Linked DNA regions of Homo sapiens: region 1 is linked to region 2. A link means that fine-mapping ties the variant in region 2 to the expression of a gene that starts in the linked region. Tissue or cell type: whole blood. Region 2 holds a variant in brackets; the other region holds the start of a gene. All regions are shown on one strand. Distances are from middle to middle.

Region 1 (8,172 bases), 28 kb before region 2:
CCTGTCCTCCCCGGGGTCGTGCTCTCTCCCCCCGCCCTGCCCCCGCCCTCCAGCTTTGTGTCCCCAGGAGGGTGGGCTGCAGGATTTCCAGCCAAGCCTTGCTGCCTGCTCAGTTTTTCCAAACCCTCCAGTCGGGGAAGGCGGCAGTGGTGAGGGATAAGAGTCCCTCCCCCCTGCCCCAGCCGGCCCCCTCTCTCAGCCTCCCTTTCCTGCCCCCACACCTTTTCCAAACTCCTTCCCGTTCCCACCCTGGCCCCTGCTCCTCTATTGGCTCCCAAGTTGCAAGCTCAGGTTGGAAGGGGCCAGGCGGGTCCCACTATCCTGAGAGGCGCTTGTGAATCCACACTCCTCAGGCCGACCCTGAGACCCGCGGGGCACCCGCCCTGCTTCTCTCCGCTTGGCGCCCGCCCCATCCCAGGACCTTGTCCTGGGGTCTCCCACCCCGAAATGGAGGCGTTGCTGGGGGGCGCCGGCAGAACCCGGCAGCAGGCTCTGTGTGGCAGGTGCCAGGCCCTGGGGCAGGCTTCGAGGAGGGGGCAAAGTGTTCCGAGCGCTGGCACGGTTCTGTCCAGCAAGTCTATTATATAATCACCATCTATCAGGAAGCCAGGCAGCTGGAGTGAGTGGGGAAGCCAGGATGCCCGGATCGGCTCTTCCTCCAGGGCCCAGGACGGTGTCGCCACCAAGATGGGGGTGCGGGCGCAGCCCAGCAGTGAGATGATGTGGGGGTCGAGGGGCAAGTGAGGGGCGCTGGGCAGTCAGATGGAGGCCCCACAAACCCCGCCCCCAGACCTCTGACTGACAGTGCCCTGAGCCAATGATTGAAGTCACTGTGGGGCTCTGCGTTAACTCTTTCTTGGGTCCCTATTTGCTTTAGGTGATAGAGTCCTTTTCAGGAACTGTTTGGTCTGGACTCCTCCCACCTTCTCGGGCTAGTGCTCCAGCCGGTGAGGAGTACCAGCTGGAGAATCCTTTTGTCCTAGTAACCCCGGCAACGGGATGCCTAATCTCAGACCCCCAGCAGCCCCAAAGTAAATTGTATTACAAGATACGGTTGTGTGTACACACTGTGCTTCCAGAAACAGCCCCTCGTGGCGCTGGCACACCCACACTGCGTCACGAACGGGCACCCTCACGCACCCATACCCATGCGGGCACTTCCACCGACGAACGCCAACGCTGACACACCTGTGACACCCCTCGTGACACAGTGACACACAGATACACGGAAAGACAGAGGTTCCCCGAGTTGGCCAGTAGAGGGAGCCGCTCGATTCCAGCAAGGGCCCCCTGCCTCTCTCCTTTCCTCCTGGCTCTCTCCAGGGTTCCACCCAGAACTTGTGGCTGCCCAGAGCTCAGCTCCGAATCCCAACCTGGAACCTCCGCTGGGGGAATGAGTCACAGCCCCACCCAGGGGAGCGCTCCGCGTGGCTGCTCCATAGGACATGTATTGTGCACCATTTAAGAGACCCCTGGCAACACAGACTCACTTGCCCCTGCAAACACTGTTTTGGACCTACTACGAACCAGGAATTGTGCCAAAGAGATCATAACAAGCCCCTTTGGCTTGTCATATATGTAAGGGGAGACTGATCCACATAAATGCAGTGGTCCCCTCTAAGAAGCACCCTGTTGGAGAAGTGGGGGCCCATATTATGTCTTTCTGGAGAGGAGATAAGAAATTAAACCTTATTTCCATGGGTCAGGTACTAGCCTAGGTGCTGGGATCTTTCACATTAGAAGCCTCTCTGGGCTTTGGTTTTCTTTTCTTTTAAGTGGGGATAAAATCGACTTCTCAGGACTGTGGTGATTCAACCCCCTAACCCAGGACAGTGCTTGGCACAGCAGGCTGGCACTTGGAAAAGTTTTGGTGATTGGATCAAAGCATCATCATGAGACAACGTGCATGAAAATGCTTTGTAAGCAGTGATGGGACACATGGGGGGGGGTTACTATGTTATCTTCTTTCAGGTTTTTGTCCCCTTCCACCTGTGCCTCCCTAAACCTTGTCCAGTGCCCAGCTGTTGGCACCATCAACCCCTCAAGGCCCTTAGGAATCTTTTGGGGGAAATCAGACATATATATATATGTGTGTGTGTGCATACACCTATACATATATAGGGGTGTGTGTGTGTATATATATATGTGTGTGTGTGTGTGTGACAAGATACAACACATCAGGAAGTACTCAGATGCTATGATGGGATAGGTGGTCAGAAGAGAGGGAGGTCAGTGAGGCTAGAACTATCTGGGGACCATCTGTGAGGAGGGGCAGGGGAGAGGGCCGAGGAAACAGCAGGAACAAGCAGGCTGGCTAGTGTTCTTCCTATCAGACACAGTCAATGCTTGTCACTTGCTATTAATTCTGGGTGGGTGGGGACAGTAGGAAACAGGGAAAGTGCCCTGGGATAAGGAGACCCAAATTCTAGTCCTGGGCTTACCACTTTCTAGCTGGGTAGCTCTGGGTAAGTCCTTAGGTAATGCAAACCTCAATTTCCTCACCTCTGTAATGGGACCATAACCTCTTTCTTGCAGGTTTGTGGTGAGCATTGAAACATGTGAAATGTTTTTAAAAAGCGCTTTGGGCCGGGCGCGGTGGCTCACGCCTGTAATCCCAGCACTTTGGGAGGCCAAGGCAGGTTGATCACCTGAGGTCAGTAGTTCGAGACCAGCCTGGCCGACATGGTGAAACGCTGTCTCTACTAAAAATACAAAATTAGCCGGGCATGGTGGCAGGTGCCTGCAATCCCAGCTACTTGGGAGGTTCAGGCAGGAGAATCGCTTTAACCCAGAAGGCAGAGGTTACAGTGAGCTGAGACCGCGCCTTTGCACTCCAGCCTGGGCAACAAGAGCGAAACTCCATCTCAAAAAAAAAAAAGGGCTTTACATTTTCTTTTTCATTGCCTCGATCGTCCTATAGGGTGGTGAGAGTGTGTGTGTGTGTGTGTGTGTGTGTGAGAGAGAGAGAGAGAGAGAGAAGCACTTTGAGGTTAGGTTAGGAGAGTTCTTTTGAGAAGACAAAGGTTTCACTTCCACAAACATTTTCTTAGCATGCACTTTGTGCTGCTGAGGATTGAGATGAAAAAACTCAGTCTGTGTCCTCAAGGACCTCATGGTCTACTAGGAGAGACATGAATAAAGAGATGCTCAGTGCATTATGGATGTGGGTGGGTACAACGAAGAGGGGACCCAGTGCTGTGTGTGTGTGTGTGTGTGCGCGCGCGTGTGTCCAGGCAACTTCCACTCCTTCCAATCAGTGCAGATAGGAAGGTAGGTTTGTCAAACCTTTCCCTAGCCTGGGATGTTGTTGGCGCGTCTCCTCCCCAGTTCTCAGGAGTGAGGAGGAGAGCAGAAACCCCCCTCCCCGCCCCCGGGCCAACCTGCCTCCCGCTAGCCGGCCGGGCGCCTTACCGAGTCAGACCACTGGGAGGCTGGGGGAGCCGGGTTGGGCGAGGAGGCAAGCGAGATGGGGGAGCTCTTATTTTGACAGGGGCCTCTCCGGGCTCTGGTATGAAGGCAGAAGGAGGCAGCCAGAGAGCCCCGATGCTTATTCAGGCTGGGGAGTGGAGCCGAGTGGAGGGGCAAGCGAGGCTCCGGCAGCGCAGGGGAGCCCGGGGAGGCGGCGGCGCGCGGCGGAGCCAGTGGCTGGACATGCCCCGGACCCGGGGCCGCTGCACCACCGCCGCCGCCCGGAGCCAGCCGGCCGGACGCCCGCACGCCTGGGTCCCCCGGCGCCGCGCCGCCCGGGGGCTGTGACCCGGACCCTCGGAGTCCGACCAACAATAAGCGCCCAGACAGCCCCTCCCCACCCAGCGCCCGGCATTCCCGCGGGCTTTGGGGAAAGGAAAGGAGAGGCGAGGAAGGAAGGAAGGAAGCAAGCAAGCAAGCAAGGGAAGGAGGAGCAGGAGCAGGAGCCGGAGCCCTGAGGTTCGGGGCCGAGACCCCGGCCCCGCGCCCCGGCCCCGGCGGGTGTGCGCGCTCTCCCGCCACTGCCCGGCGCCCGCGACCATGCTCCGCGGTTGGGAGGCAGGAACCCAGGCACCCAGCGATCCCCGGATAGCCTCTCCCGGGCCGGGCTGGTATTGAGATCAAGGCGTCCAGGATCAAAAGATCACCGCCTGCCCGCCCCCTCTGCATCTCCAACTGGCGAGCAGGAGGACCCCCATCCACACAACGACCCTGACCTGGTCATGGCGTCCAGCTCCGGCCTGGCGTGAGGACCCCCCAATCCGCGTGAGGTGAGGGGTGGGCTGGGGGCAAGGCGAAAGTCATGCCAGGCCAGCAGAGGCGCGAGGAGGGAGATCCAGTTTGAATCGGGGAGGGGAAACACAGTCTGATTGTCTCTTGCTCTCTGGCACGTACCCCCAGGCTGTTTAAGGTGTGGGGGACTCCCCCAGGGTCAGTGGAGGCTACTCTTAAGCCCCCAATCAGGTTGGCAGCTCCAGAACACCGTGGGGAGGGCTTAGGGACAGCCAGGGGACCCTGCCACCCTAGCGCAGAGAACAAGGCCGGCCTTGGGCCAGCTGGAGCAGCGAACCTTGCCCTGGGGGCTTCTGGGAGATGTAGTCCCCCTCCCAGGCTCACCAACCCCGTGGGTCTCAGCACCCCAGCCCTCCTCCTCTGGCTGATAGGAGCCTCCAGAAGGAGGTGGGTTGGGACTGGGGAGAGCTGGGGGTCACCCTTTTCTCCCAGGCACTGCCTGTGAGTAGCGGGGGCTGTGACTGAGGAGTCTCTTCTTCCAAGGCTTCTGAGTGATGTGGGCTTGGCTGGGGGGTGGGGCAGTCATACAGTTCCTTGGAAGTGTCCCTGCGCTGCTAAGGGGAGGTGGCCCCTGTCTTGATCCAAAGGAACCCTCGGGGAAGAATGTAGGAAGAGAAGTGAGCTTAGGCTTCTTGTTGCGCTGGGGTAGGTCCTATTCCAGGGCTGCTGGAATTTGGTTTCAGAAGAGACAGAGGGCTGCTCTCTCCTTCTGAGAAGGATAGTGTCCCTTGAAGTCTAGGAGTCTGGAGGGTGTCTCTCTGGAGCAATGAAGCTAGGATCAGCTACTGTCTGTCTGTCCAGCTTCCTTCCTTCCGGGTTTTTCTGACACCCCCTCTCTCCCTTCTCTTTCTGTCTACTGCTTGGGGTGTGTGTCTGTGTCTGTGTCTGTGTCTGGGGGAACCTCTGCTGCGAGGAGAAAAAGTGTTGCTCTGAGAGAGGTGAACTGGGCGTGTGTTTGAGCCCTCACAAAGGGGTTCCAAGCCTCCCTGGATCTTCTGCCCTCACTCCCAGCCTTGGTTTAGTGTGAAAGCTGACTGTGCCCTGTATCTGCTCCAACTCTGCTGCTGCCTCTGAGCAGCTCTCTGGATGAGACCACCACAGTGAGTGGGCTTCCACTGTCTTCTCCTTCTCTTCTTGGTCTCTCCAGGGAGCAGCCACTTCCGGGCAGGGGCTGCCTTGCTCTTCTGCTGCCTCTCAGCATGGGCCGGGCTACCTTCTCCAGGTCAGGACCACAATTTCATGACCCCAGAGGAGGAGCATGCTCAGGCCCTGTCTTCCTGGTGTCAGCTCTGAGGCCCTGCTGATAGAGGCCTCAGGACAGGACAGGGAGAGAATGGGTGAGGAAGGTGAGGAGCAGGGAGAGAGACTGGGAGGCTGGTGCCAGGAAGGAAGGTGCCGCCTCCCCCAGGTGATTTGCCTCCTTGGCCTTGGAGAGCCAGGCCTGGAAGCAGCCTTCTGGCCACCTCCCTCTAGGGGTTCCCTGCTTACCCATGTTGCTCCTGAGTGGGGTGGGGTGATGGTTCACAGCAGGAAGGGTGCTGAGGGGCAGGTAGAATACCTAAAATCTTGGATCCAGAGTGACTCTTGTGCCTGGAGTAGAAGGGGTCCCATGACTGGTGATGGGTTCTGGAGGCCCATATGGAGGTTCAGAATGAGTCTCTACTAGGATGGGGAGTCATGGGACCGGAGAGATACTACAGGGTCCTAGAGAGGGATTGGCAGTCCACAGAAATCTAGCGCCTCAGTGGCAATTTGGGACCTATTGATCTTGCCTGTTGAATCTGTGTTGGGTACCCATGACCCTGCTTAGCTAGTTCCTGCCTTTGGAGTCCTGGTACCTGGGTTAAGCGGGAGCCCTAGGCTGGGGTCTCAACTTCCAGACCAGGCAGGACAGTAGCCTCTGGGCAGGGGCCTAGGGGGTGGCAGTGTCGGCTCAGCAAGGGCTGGAATGCCTGGCACCTGCTTTAGATTAAAGGAGATGCCGAGCAAAGGGGAGCTGCCTGCCTATCAGGGGAGTGACTGCGATGGAGCTCCATGGAGCCCAGGAGTGGAGTGGGAGGAAAGGACCAGGGTTGCAGCAGCAGCTGCCGGGGCAGGAGTGGAGGGAGCCACTGTCACCCAGCTCTGCAGCCCTCCTCCAGGGAGTCCGAGAGCCACTGTCACCCAGCTCTGCAGCCCCTCCTCCAGGGAGTCCAATAGGAGGAGCTGGGGGCACCCCCACACTGCCTCTGGTACCACACGCTGAAGTTCTGTCCCAGGACCCTGGGACAGCTCTGGAGAGCTGGGGTGTTCAAGTTTCCAGTCTTCCCAGAATCAGAAGAGGCCCACAAGGAGGTGCCTGGGAAGTCCTTTGGGGTTCTTGTGGTCCTGCTGCCATGCTGGCTGTTTCTGGGGCTCCTTGGGTGCTGAGAGTGAGGTAGCTCAAGAGCCTGGGCACCCAGGGGTGACAGGGGAATGGCATCCCTTCCTTCCTTGTGCCAGAGCCCTGGGCACTGCCCGGGTGCTGACCTCCGATGGGGGGAGGGGGCAGAAGGGGGATGGCACCGTGGGAAAGTGGGCAGCCGTGGGAGCCAAGCGGGTACAGGCTGGGTGCCGCGGGCAGGGAGCCTCTGCCAGGCCCGCTCTCCCTGGGGTGGGGCCGGCTGTTCCATGGACTGGCTCAACCTGTTGAGCGCCTGGCTGCTCTAGCTCCGCATGTGTGCCCCTGCCTGCCAGCCCCGACAGCTGCCCACCCACAAACACACCGTGGGGGCTGCCCTCAGGGAACTGAGGAAGGGAAGCTCTAACTGGCCAGAGGAGCCGGGATGGGGCTGGTGGGAGCTCCTGCCAGGGCTGAGGAGCCTATCTGAGTCCCAGAGCTGGGGCTGGAGCCAGTTGGAGGGCTGGAAGGCCAGGGCTAGGAGGGGAAGGCCAGAGCACTGCAGCTCCTGAGCTGGTGCATGTCACTTGGCTCGGCGGCCCTGAAGGCTGCCTGGACTTACAGCCTGGAATTTCCTCTGCCTGGTGCCAGGGCCAGGCCTCTGAGCCCCACCCCCAGCCTGGCCTGACCTCCCCTCCCTCCCCTCCTGGGAGAACTCAGCCTGACTTTCCCTGGAGGCTGGGGGAGGGGCAGTAAGGGCATTCTGGCTGCCGTGGGAGGGGCGACTTCCTGGGTGTGGGCATGTGTTACACTGCCTCAGTCTCCCCGAGGGTCCCGCATCCTTGTGGAGAGGAAGAAAGCCTTGGGTTCCCAGGGGGATGCCCACAGCCTGCTCTGAGTGTGGGGGGTCCTGGAACCTGTGGAAGACCCCTGACTCCTGCAGGCCCTTGCCATCTCCCCATCCCCTGTGACCCCTTAGCTTTCCACCCACCTTGGGGCTGTGCTAGCTGGTGGGGAAGGGGAGCCAGGGTGCCACTCTGGAGGGGAGAAGGTGGTCACCACTGCCCAGGAGTAGGGGAAAGGACACAGACAGGTTCCCTCTGATTCTCCATGCCAAGGGGGAGGGGCGGCTTCCCCTGCCTTCTCACTTTTCCTGTCAGTGGCAAAAGCAGAGGCCTCTCCTTTGCAGCCCAGGCCCTCCCTGCTTGGCCCTGGACTGGTCCCCCTCCTAACCCTGGTGTTTTATTCTAGGCCCCCTTCCACCAGAGCTGGGACTCCCTCTGTCCGTTCCCGTTCCTCCTCCAATGGACTGGTAGCCCTGGGCTGGCCCGTCTTCCCCTCCTCCTCACTCTCCACTTCCCCACCCCCAGCCTCAACTCGGAATGGCCCTGAATCCAGCATTTCCAGCATTTCGAAACCAGGATTGTTTTGAAATCCCTGAGTGGTTCTCCACCCCCTGCAGGCTCCCCTCCTCCCCAGAGCATTGCCTTCTAATCCGACTTCACACACTCTGCGCTGCAAGTTTGTGTGTCTGAGTTTGTGTGCTAGCACAT
Region 2 (8,172 bases):
TAATCAGATGGGCTCACCGGGCATGGGGCACTTGAAGTCGCCCACCCTTAGCCAGGTGCACTCACCCCTGGTCACCTCGCCCTCTGCCAACCTCAAGTCACCCCAGACTCCCTCACAGATGGTGCCCTTGCCTTCTGCCAACCCGCCAGGACCTCTCAAGTCGCCCCAGGTCCTCGGCTCCTCCCTCAGTGTCCGTTCACCCACTGGCTCGCCCAGCAGGCTCAAGTCTCCTTCCATGGCGGTGCCTTCTCCAGGCTGGGTTGCCTCACCTAAGACGGCCATGCCCAGCCCGGGGGTCTCCCAGAACAAGCAGCCGCCTCTCAACATGAACTCTTCCACCACCCTGAGCAACATGGAACAGGGTGAGTCAATTGCGCAGGCAGGCAGGCAGGCAGGCAGGCAGGCGCTGAGCAGTGTGTCCATGCTGGGGCTGGGCAGTGAGTGAGTAAGGGCCTGTGTACCACGGGCCCAGAGGTGGATGGCTCTGCTTATGGGGCAGATGATGACATTTGTGGGCTTTCTCAGGGGGTACCACGTGAGTCTCCCAGGCATTTTGAGTGATCGTACTTGGGGCCTGGGATCTTCCCCTTGCCTGGGGCCCTGAGGCTGCAGGAATTGCTTGAAGACTGGTGGGCTCTGGAGATAGTGGGGGCCTGTGGGTGTGTCTGAAGGACCAGGTGATTTGGGGAACTGACCGCTTCCTAAACCTCCCCATATCCACAGCCAAACTCATCTGCCCCTCCCCAGTCACCCCTGCTCTCTTTGTCTCCCCGTTTCTGTAGGTACCCTCCCGCCTAGCGGCCCCCGGAGCAGCTCCTCAGCACCTCCCGCCAACCCTCCCAGCGGCCTCATGAACCCCAGCCTACCATTCACTTCCTCCCCAGACCCCACACCTTCCCAGAACCCCCTGTCACTGATGATGACCCAGATGTCCAAGTACGCCATGCCCAGCTCCACCCCGCTCTACCACAATGCCATCAAGACCATCGCCACCTCAGACGACGAGCTGCTGCCCGACCGGCCCCTGCTGCCCCCCCCACCACCACCGCAGGGCTCCGGGCCAGGTGCGAGGACAGGCCAGGGCCCCAGGGAGGCCAGCTGGTGTGGGCACTGGGAGCGGGGAGCACAGCTGTGGTTGTGCTGGCTTTTTTGTGCCTCTGAAGGCCCTGGGTGTGGGGGTGGAGGCTCCGGGATGCTGTTCCCACTCGCTGGAGTCATTAGGGAAACCCAGCCCAGAGCACTCGAGTGGTCTTTCCAACACCTGGTGGTGTGTCTGGCGAACTGGGCCAGAACTTGGTCTCTTGGCTTCTAGCATCAATGCCTCCAGTCCCTTCCCTCCCAGCCAGGGGAAGCCAGTGGTGAAGACTTTGACCTCTGGCACCCCCTGGCTTGGGAGTGGGGAAGGCCTGAGCCCTGCACCCTCCCCGAGCTGGGCACACCGTGCCTGACCCCCTGTCTTCTATTCCCTACAGGGATCAGCAACAGCCAGCCCAGCCAGATGCACCTGAACTCAGCCGCTGCCCAGAGCCCTATGGGCATGAACCTGCCAGGCCAGCAGCCCCTGTCCCATGAGCCCCCGCCCGCCATGCTGCCCTCCCCCACCCCTCTGGGCTCCAACATTCCACTGCATCCCAACGCACAGGGGACAGGGGGGCCCCCTCAAAACTCCATGATGATGGCCCCAGGGGGCCCCGACTCCCTGAATGCCCCCTGTGGCCCAGTGCCCAGCTCCTCCCAGATGATGCCCTTCCCCCCTCGGCTGCAGCAGCCCCATGGTGCCATGGCCCCCACTGGGGGTGGGGGCGGGGGGCCTGGCCTGCAGCAGCACTACCCGTCAGGCATGGCCCTGCCTCCCGAGGACCTGCCCAACCAGCCGCCAGGCCCCATGCCTCCCCAGCAGCACCTGATGGGCAAAGCCATGGCTGGGCGCATGGGCGACGCATACCCACCGGGTGTGCTCCCTGGGGTGGCATCAGTGCTGAACGACCCCGAGCTGAGCGAGGTGATCCGGCCCACCCCAACGGGGATCCCCGAGTTCGACTTGTCGAGGATCATCCCCTCTGAGAAGCCAAGCAGCACCCTCCAGTACTTCCCCAAGAGCGAGAACCAGCCCCCCAAGGCTCAGCCCCCTAATCTGCATCTCATGAACCTGCAGAACATGATGGCGGAGCAGACTCCCTCTCGGCCTCCCAACCTCCCAGGCCAGCAGGGCGTCCAGCGGGGGCTCAACATGTCCATGTGCCACCCTGGACAGATGTCCTTGCTGGGCAGGACAGGCGTGCCCCCACAGCAGGGGATGGTGCCCCATGGCCTGCACCAGGGGGTCATGTCCCCTCCACAAGGCCTCATGACCCAGCAGAATTTCATGCTGATGAAGCAGCGGGGCGTGGGGGGCGAGGTCTACAGCCAGCCGCCCCACATGCTCTCCCCGCAGGGCTCCCTCATGGGCCCCCCGCCCCAGCAGAACCTCATGGTGTCCCACCCCCTTCGGCAGCGCAGTGTGTCCCTGGACAGCCAGATGGGCTACCTCCCGGCACCAGGCGGCATGGCCAACCTGCCCTTCTAGAAGTCGCTGCCAGGGCTGGAGCCGGGGCAATGTTGCAAATACGATAACCTTAACAAAGTTCTTCCCCTCAATGTTGGGATGGCCTGGGTCGCGGGGTGGGGTGGAGGGGGTGGGAGGGGGCTTGTGTAGGGAGTGGCATTTGTGGAAACCAGATGTGCTGGCAGCTTAGGGGGAAGTGGCAGTGTGGGGTGGGGGATTTTGCATTGGGGTTGGTTCCATTTCGGCCACCAGGACTGCCCCTCCCCCACTCCTCCCAATTCCTATGGAGCCTCTCTATTTTACCTCTTTCCGTGCATCCCTGCACCCGCCACACCCCCTTCAGCTATGCTTTTGGAGTCCTGGATGGGAATCTGGGGGGAGAGAGGAAGGACAGGTCAGGTCTCCCCCAGCCCCTTCTGCTCCTGTCTCCTCGTGTCCGCATTGCTGGAGCTCCACCTCCCTCTTGGTTTCTCCGCACCCGCCCATTTTCCTTCTGTCTTTACCTGCTTCGTATCCTTTCCCTGCTGATGTGGCTGACCCCTCTCCCACCCCTCCCTGCAGGCGGCTGGCCAGGTGGGCAGGTGCCAGCCGGAGCTGTAAATAGAGCGCTGCGCTTTTGTGCTGGTTTGTGCGTGTGCTGTATTTCTGTGTTTTGATAGAAGTCACACAAAAAAAAAAGGATAAAAGAAACCCTTCCCCCCTTCTTCAAGTTATTGCTCCCTCCATTCCCCTGGACCCAGGGACATGCAGCCCTACATGGCCACCCACTGTTTGCAGTGTCTCTGGGTCCCTAAGGGATACCATTCCTGTCTCGTCCCCAAATGGTAAGATGACGTAAATGACCCACTCCTAAACTGAGGTCAGACCACCTAGGCTTCCACCTGGTGAGCCCTAGCAGGGCTGAGACCCCCAGGGCGGCAGCCTGTCTGCTGCTGAGTGATTCAGGGAGAACATGTGTGCACGTGCATGTGTGTTTGCCCACACCGGTGACACGGGGCCCTGGCTTTCCACTTTGGATGCCCGGGCATCCGCTGCTGCTACATCTTAGCCAGAACTTGAAGTCTTTTGTCCCAGTTTGGGATGAAGGAAAGGAGGAAGAGGCGGTGGCTGTGTGGCCCCCTTGAGTGGAGCCATGGAAGGGGTGGCATGGTGCCACTGGGGCCTGTGGCTGTAGTAGCCCTGGGCCAGGTAACCTCCAGGGCCCTGACTTTTCCAGAGGCTGCTGCCACCTACTTCTTATCAAAGAAGGGGGAGAACAGTTCATCTGAGTCAGTGCACCTCCCCTCCAGTCTCCACTCCCTGAGGATGGAATCGGGGAAACAGCATCCTGCCGCCTCCTCTCTGCCTGCCCACTCACCGGCAAGGTTGTCCCTCTGCCCAGGGCTCAGGGCCATGTACCAGATCTGTCTGTGCCCACCCAGGCACAGCCACTGCCTCCCCCTTGGCTCCCTGCTCCTACCCAGGAGAGCTCCCTATCCGCCTTTGGTCAGAGCTGAAGCCATATACGACTGGGTGTTTGTCCCCCTACTTTGGCCCCAGGAGTAAAAAAACTTCTCCTTTTCTCACTTCCTTTCCTGCCTCGGGAGGTGGCAGGGCAGTTCCCTGGCTGAGGCCTTTTGCGCCCCACCTCCAGGACCAAGGGCCATTCTAGACAGGGTGTCTTCTACCAGGACCCGTCCCTAGCCTTCCTGGCCTGGAGGGCCTGGTCTTGCACTGGCAGCTGTAATACAAAGGGAACTCGCCCCACTTCTCCCAGCCTGGTGCTGTCCTCTCGGCCCACCATCGGCCAGGTCCAGCGCTTCCTCTGGGGCTGACAACAGGCCCCTGACTCACCCCGGTCACCTCCCAGGGTCCATGGCCAGGGCCTCTGTGTTTGGGGGGCCACTTGCCCTTCATCCTGCCAGGCGCTTTGCCCGCCCTGCCTCAGCCTGGGCCCTGTGCCCTTGAGCCCTCCACCCCTGGCCCAAGACCCCCCCAAACTGTCTGACTCTGTGTTTCCTGCCCTGAGGAGAGAGGGGTCAGATTGCAGCGGGCCGAGTGCCCTCTCCGTCCCCTCTCCTCCCACCC[A/G]CGCCACAGGCCAGCCTACTCTTCCCTCCATCCATGGCCACACCCCCAGCCATTTTGTACCATTATATAAATATATATATAAATATAAATATATAAATACAATATGTGAAGACATCTTCTTGGTTTTTATTTTGAAACAATTTTTAGGCTTGTTCCGGGGGTCTCTGTGCTGCCTGTACTGTATTGACCTGTTTTATAGGTGCCTTTTTATTAAAAAGAAAATTCAAAATCCAGCCTCTTGCCTCTTTGCATCTGCTTCAGACTCCCCCATCGATTACCCAGCTTGCGAGGAGATACTCAGAGAAAAAAGGGACGTCTTAGGGCTTCCTCGTTGTCCTGCCGTGAAGACACTCTCACGTGAGCCACAGCTGTTATTTCCCCAGTGGGGCCTCCCAAGGAGCTTGGCTGCTTGGCTTGAGTGGGACAAGGGCAGGGGTCCCTGACTCCCCACCTGATCAAAGGCTGGGGAGGTGGTAGGGAGCACCCAGAACTGCCGGACGGGCCTCCCACACCCCAGGTGAGCAAACAAGCACGGAGCAGCTTCCTGCGGTTCCATCTGAGTGACATCCTCACGGGGGCAGGGCACGGCTTCCTGGGGCCTGGGGACTTCCCTGCCTCAGTGTGTTTCTTACACTTCCCTGCCTAAGGTGATGCCACGGAGGGGATGGTTGAGATGACTCCCACGGGCCCCTTCCAGTCCACCTTTCTCCGTTCCGACTCTGAGTTTCCTCGGGTCTATAGCTTATGGGAAGGGAGTGAGGAGGGGACAAGCCAGCCTCCTTCCCCATCAATGCCCACAACCTCCCATCCCCTGGACCCAGCCACCCTAGGAGTTCTCCACCCCACCCCATCTCGCCTGGCGGAGGGGACCGCCGGGTTTGATTGATCCATCTCCCTCCTTGGGGTTCGGGAAGAAAGCTCTTTTCTTCCCTCTGTCGGGTTTCTTTCTTGCTTCTCGGCCTTCACGCTTCCTCAGGTCACTGGCTGGCCTCCAAGGGCACCTAGAGTCAGCCCTGCCTGCAGACCACCCAGGATCCGGTGACATGGGGTGGACCCAGCGCTGTTTCGGTCAGAGCCAGGGGCAGCTACCTGAACTCAACCAGTCTGAGCTTCCTGCTTGGTCAAGATGACTGCAGGCTTGGGGGCCTGGCAGAATGTCTGTGTTTTTAGGGACTGAGTTGTCCGAAGGCCACACTCTGCTGCCAGCTGGCCTTTCCTCAGCCTTAACCTCCACTCATCCCCTGGTGCTCAGCTTCTGGCTTTGTTTGACAGGTGGGCAGGAGGAGAGAGGGGAAGCTGTGGAGGTCAGCAGCCCCTAAGCTGATGGAGTGTGTTCTGGGAGGGGCAGGCGCTCTCCGTTGGCAAGGGCAGAAGTAGAAGTTGTTTCTTGAGCATTGGATGATTAGGATGGGAGGTGCGTGAGGTTCTCTCAGCCCAGGGGGGTGCAGATGGGTAAGGACAGCCTTCACTGTGCCTTTGAGCTGCTTTCCGCTCCCTGGGCTCCAGCCTAGCCCCAGGGCCGGCAGAAGAGCTGGCAGGGATGTTCTAGAAATGGGGGTTGGTTCCTCTAGCTACCCCAAATGAGGATACTCCTAGGACACTCTTAGCCACGGTGAGCCCTTAGGATCCCAGCTCCTGTTGGAAGGAGCATCCAGCATCACTGCCTGCCCCAAGGAAAAGCAGCAATAAAAGGGGACACTGGGACCTAGAACGTGGTGAGAGAGGTGGCATTCTCTGACTCAGAGAGACTGCTCCTGCGCCAGCTAGGGAAGAGCTGGCACAGGGAGGCAGGGCCGGTACAGCCCAGCTTCGTCAGGAGCCGCGACAGGTCACTGCGGAACTTCACGCCGGCGAAAGTGTAGAGCATGGGGTTGAGGCAGCAGTGGGCCAGGCCCAGGAACTCACACATGGTGATGGCCACGGGGAGAGAGCCATTCAGCTTGCAGGTATTGTCCACGGCCTTCAGCCTCGCCAGGGTGTCCAGGAAGATGACGATGTGGTAGGGTGACCAGCAGAGGAAGAAGATGCTTGTCACCAGGATGGCCACCCTGACTGCCTTCTGCCGCTGAGGGCGCCGCTGGGCCTGGCGCAACCTGTGCACTACCCCCACGTAGCACCAGCCCATCACCAGCATGGGCAGCAGGAATCCCGCCACATGGTAGAGGAATCGGGAGGTGAACCAGGCATGCGTTTCTGCTTGGTTCTCTTGGGAGAAGGTGCAACGTGGCAGGGAGTTGTTGTGATGGCCTTGGCTGACTTTGGCGAAGAGAATCTCTGGCAAGGCAAGGAGGAAGCCCACCAGCCAGATGGTCCCACAGGTGATGTGGATGGAGAGGAGGCGGCGGTGGCGGTAGGCATGGACGGCGTGGACAATGGCCAGGTAGCGGTCCACGGCGATGCAGGCCAGGAGCAGGCTGCTGCAGTAGAAGTTGACTTTGTGCAGGGCAATCACAGTTTTGCAGAGGAAGGTCCCCAGGACCCAGCCCACAGAGCCCTCGGCCACGGCAAAGGGCAAGATGAAGACCAGCAGGAGGTCGGCCACGGCCAGGTGGAACAGGAAGGTCTCCGTGGAACTGCGTGTCTGCCGGTGCCGCTCCAGGATCACCAGCACCAGGACGTTGCCGATCACGCCCAGGAGGAAGATGAGGCTGTAGGCCACGGGCACGAACACGGCCTTGAAGGAGGCCATGAGGGGCCCCTCTGTGGCAGGGCAGAGATGATTTTCCACCAGGGAGGTGTCGTTATAGTTGTCCAATCTGTCCAGTTCCCAGAACTGCAAGGGCAAGGAGACGGGAGGGTGAGGACCTAAGGACCTGTCTTTCCTCTCTGAGAGGAACCCTAGCTCTCTTGGAGGTTTTTTCCTACATAGGGCCCACTGACCAAATGTCAAGTTTCAAATTTCAATTTTGAACAAATCACTTTGTCTTTTCCAACTTCAGTTTTTCGCCTGTCAAAGGGACCGCATTCCTTAGAGTGGTGGTGCTGATGAAGGGAGGCGTGCGGGTGGCTGAGCTTTGTAAGTGCTGGAGGGCTGGACCCCATAAGTCAGCTTGTGTTTTTGGGTCCTCATGTACGGAAGCCTGCAGCCTTGGCGGCTGGAGTCACAGGACTTCAATTTGGGGAATGGACCTGCTTGGTACAAGGACCCATCTGTTCCAGTTCTGAGCAGAACAGTCGGGCACTGCAACTTAGCATTGTGCTGGGGACTAGGGGCGGGCGGGTGCTGACTTGGCCTGTGGGCTCCCTCCTCATGGGTCTTCCTGTTCCTGACTGTCTCTGTTATCACTGAAATGGCAGTAATAGCCTCCCATCTGGTTCAATATGCACAACCCGCTCAAGGTATGTAATATTATTCCTATTTCACAGATGTGTCTTGCTAAAGATCAGGTTTGTGTGAACCGACGTTTATCTACTTCCAAAGCCAGTACCTCCCACTGAACAACCCTGCCTGGGCTTCCTTCTAGGGGCAGCAGATGCAGGCTCCCTGCTACTTCCCATCACTGGCAACCTCCCTGCAGCTAGGAGCACTCAGAAGCAGAAAGCCCAGAGGCAGAGAGAGG

What was found. PIP is the estimated chance that this variant, and not a neighbour inherited with it, causes the effect.
Region 1: it holds the start of BCL9L, and the variant in region 2 is fine-mapped to the expression of BCL9L in whole blood (TOPMed, PIP 0.98).

Annotation. Positions count from the first base shown.
Region 1 is chr11:118,921,304-118,929,475 of GRCh38, reverse strand. It overlaps BCL9L (BCL9 like), which reads left to right and starts at 3,550. Exons shown (of 10, transcript NM_001378213.1): 1 at 3,550-4,238. RefSeq lists enhancers at 418-467, 478-757, 768-887, 1,237-1,738, 3,891-4,392 and 4 more and silencers at 2,426-2,485, 3,306-3,445, 3,646-3,695.
Region 2 is chr11:118,892,809-118,900,980 of GRCh38, reverse strand. CXCR5 (C-X-C motif chemokine receptor 5) reads right to left here. Exons shown (of 2, transcript NM_001716.5): 2 at 3,194-7,385. The coding sequence ends at 6,318. BCL9L (BCL9 like) reads left to right here. Exons shown (of 10, transcript NM_001378213.1): 8 at 1-362; 9 at 783-1,064; 10 at 1,473-4,845. The coding sequence ends at 2,566. Among named protein-coding and RNA genes, the nearest start is that of CXCR5, 13 kb to the right of the region's middle. RefSeq lists enhancers at 2,332-2,839, 4,459-5,217. The variant A/G (reference allele first, on the strand shown) is at 4,613.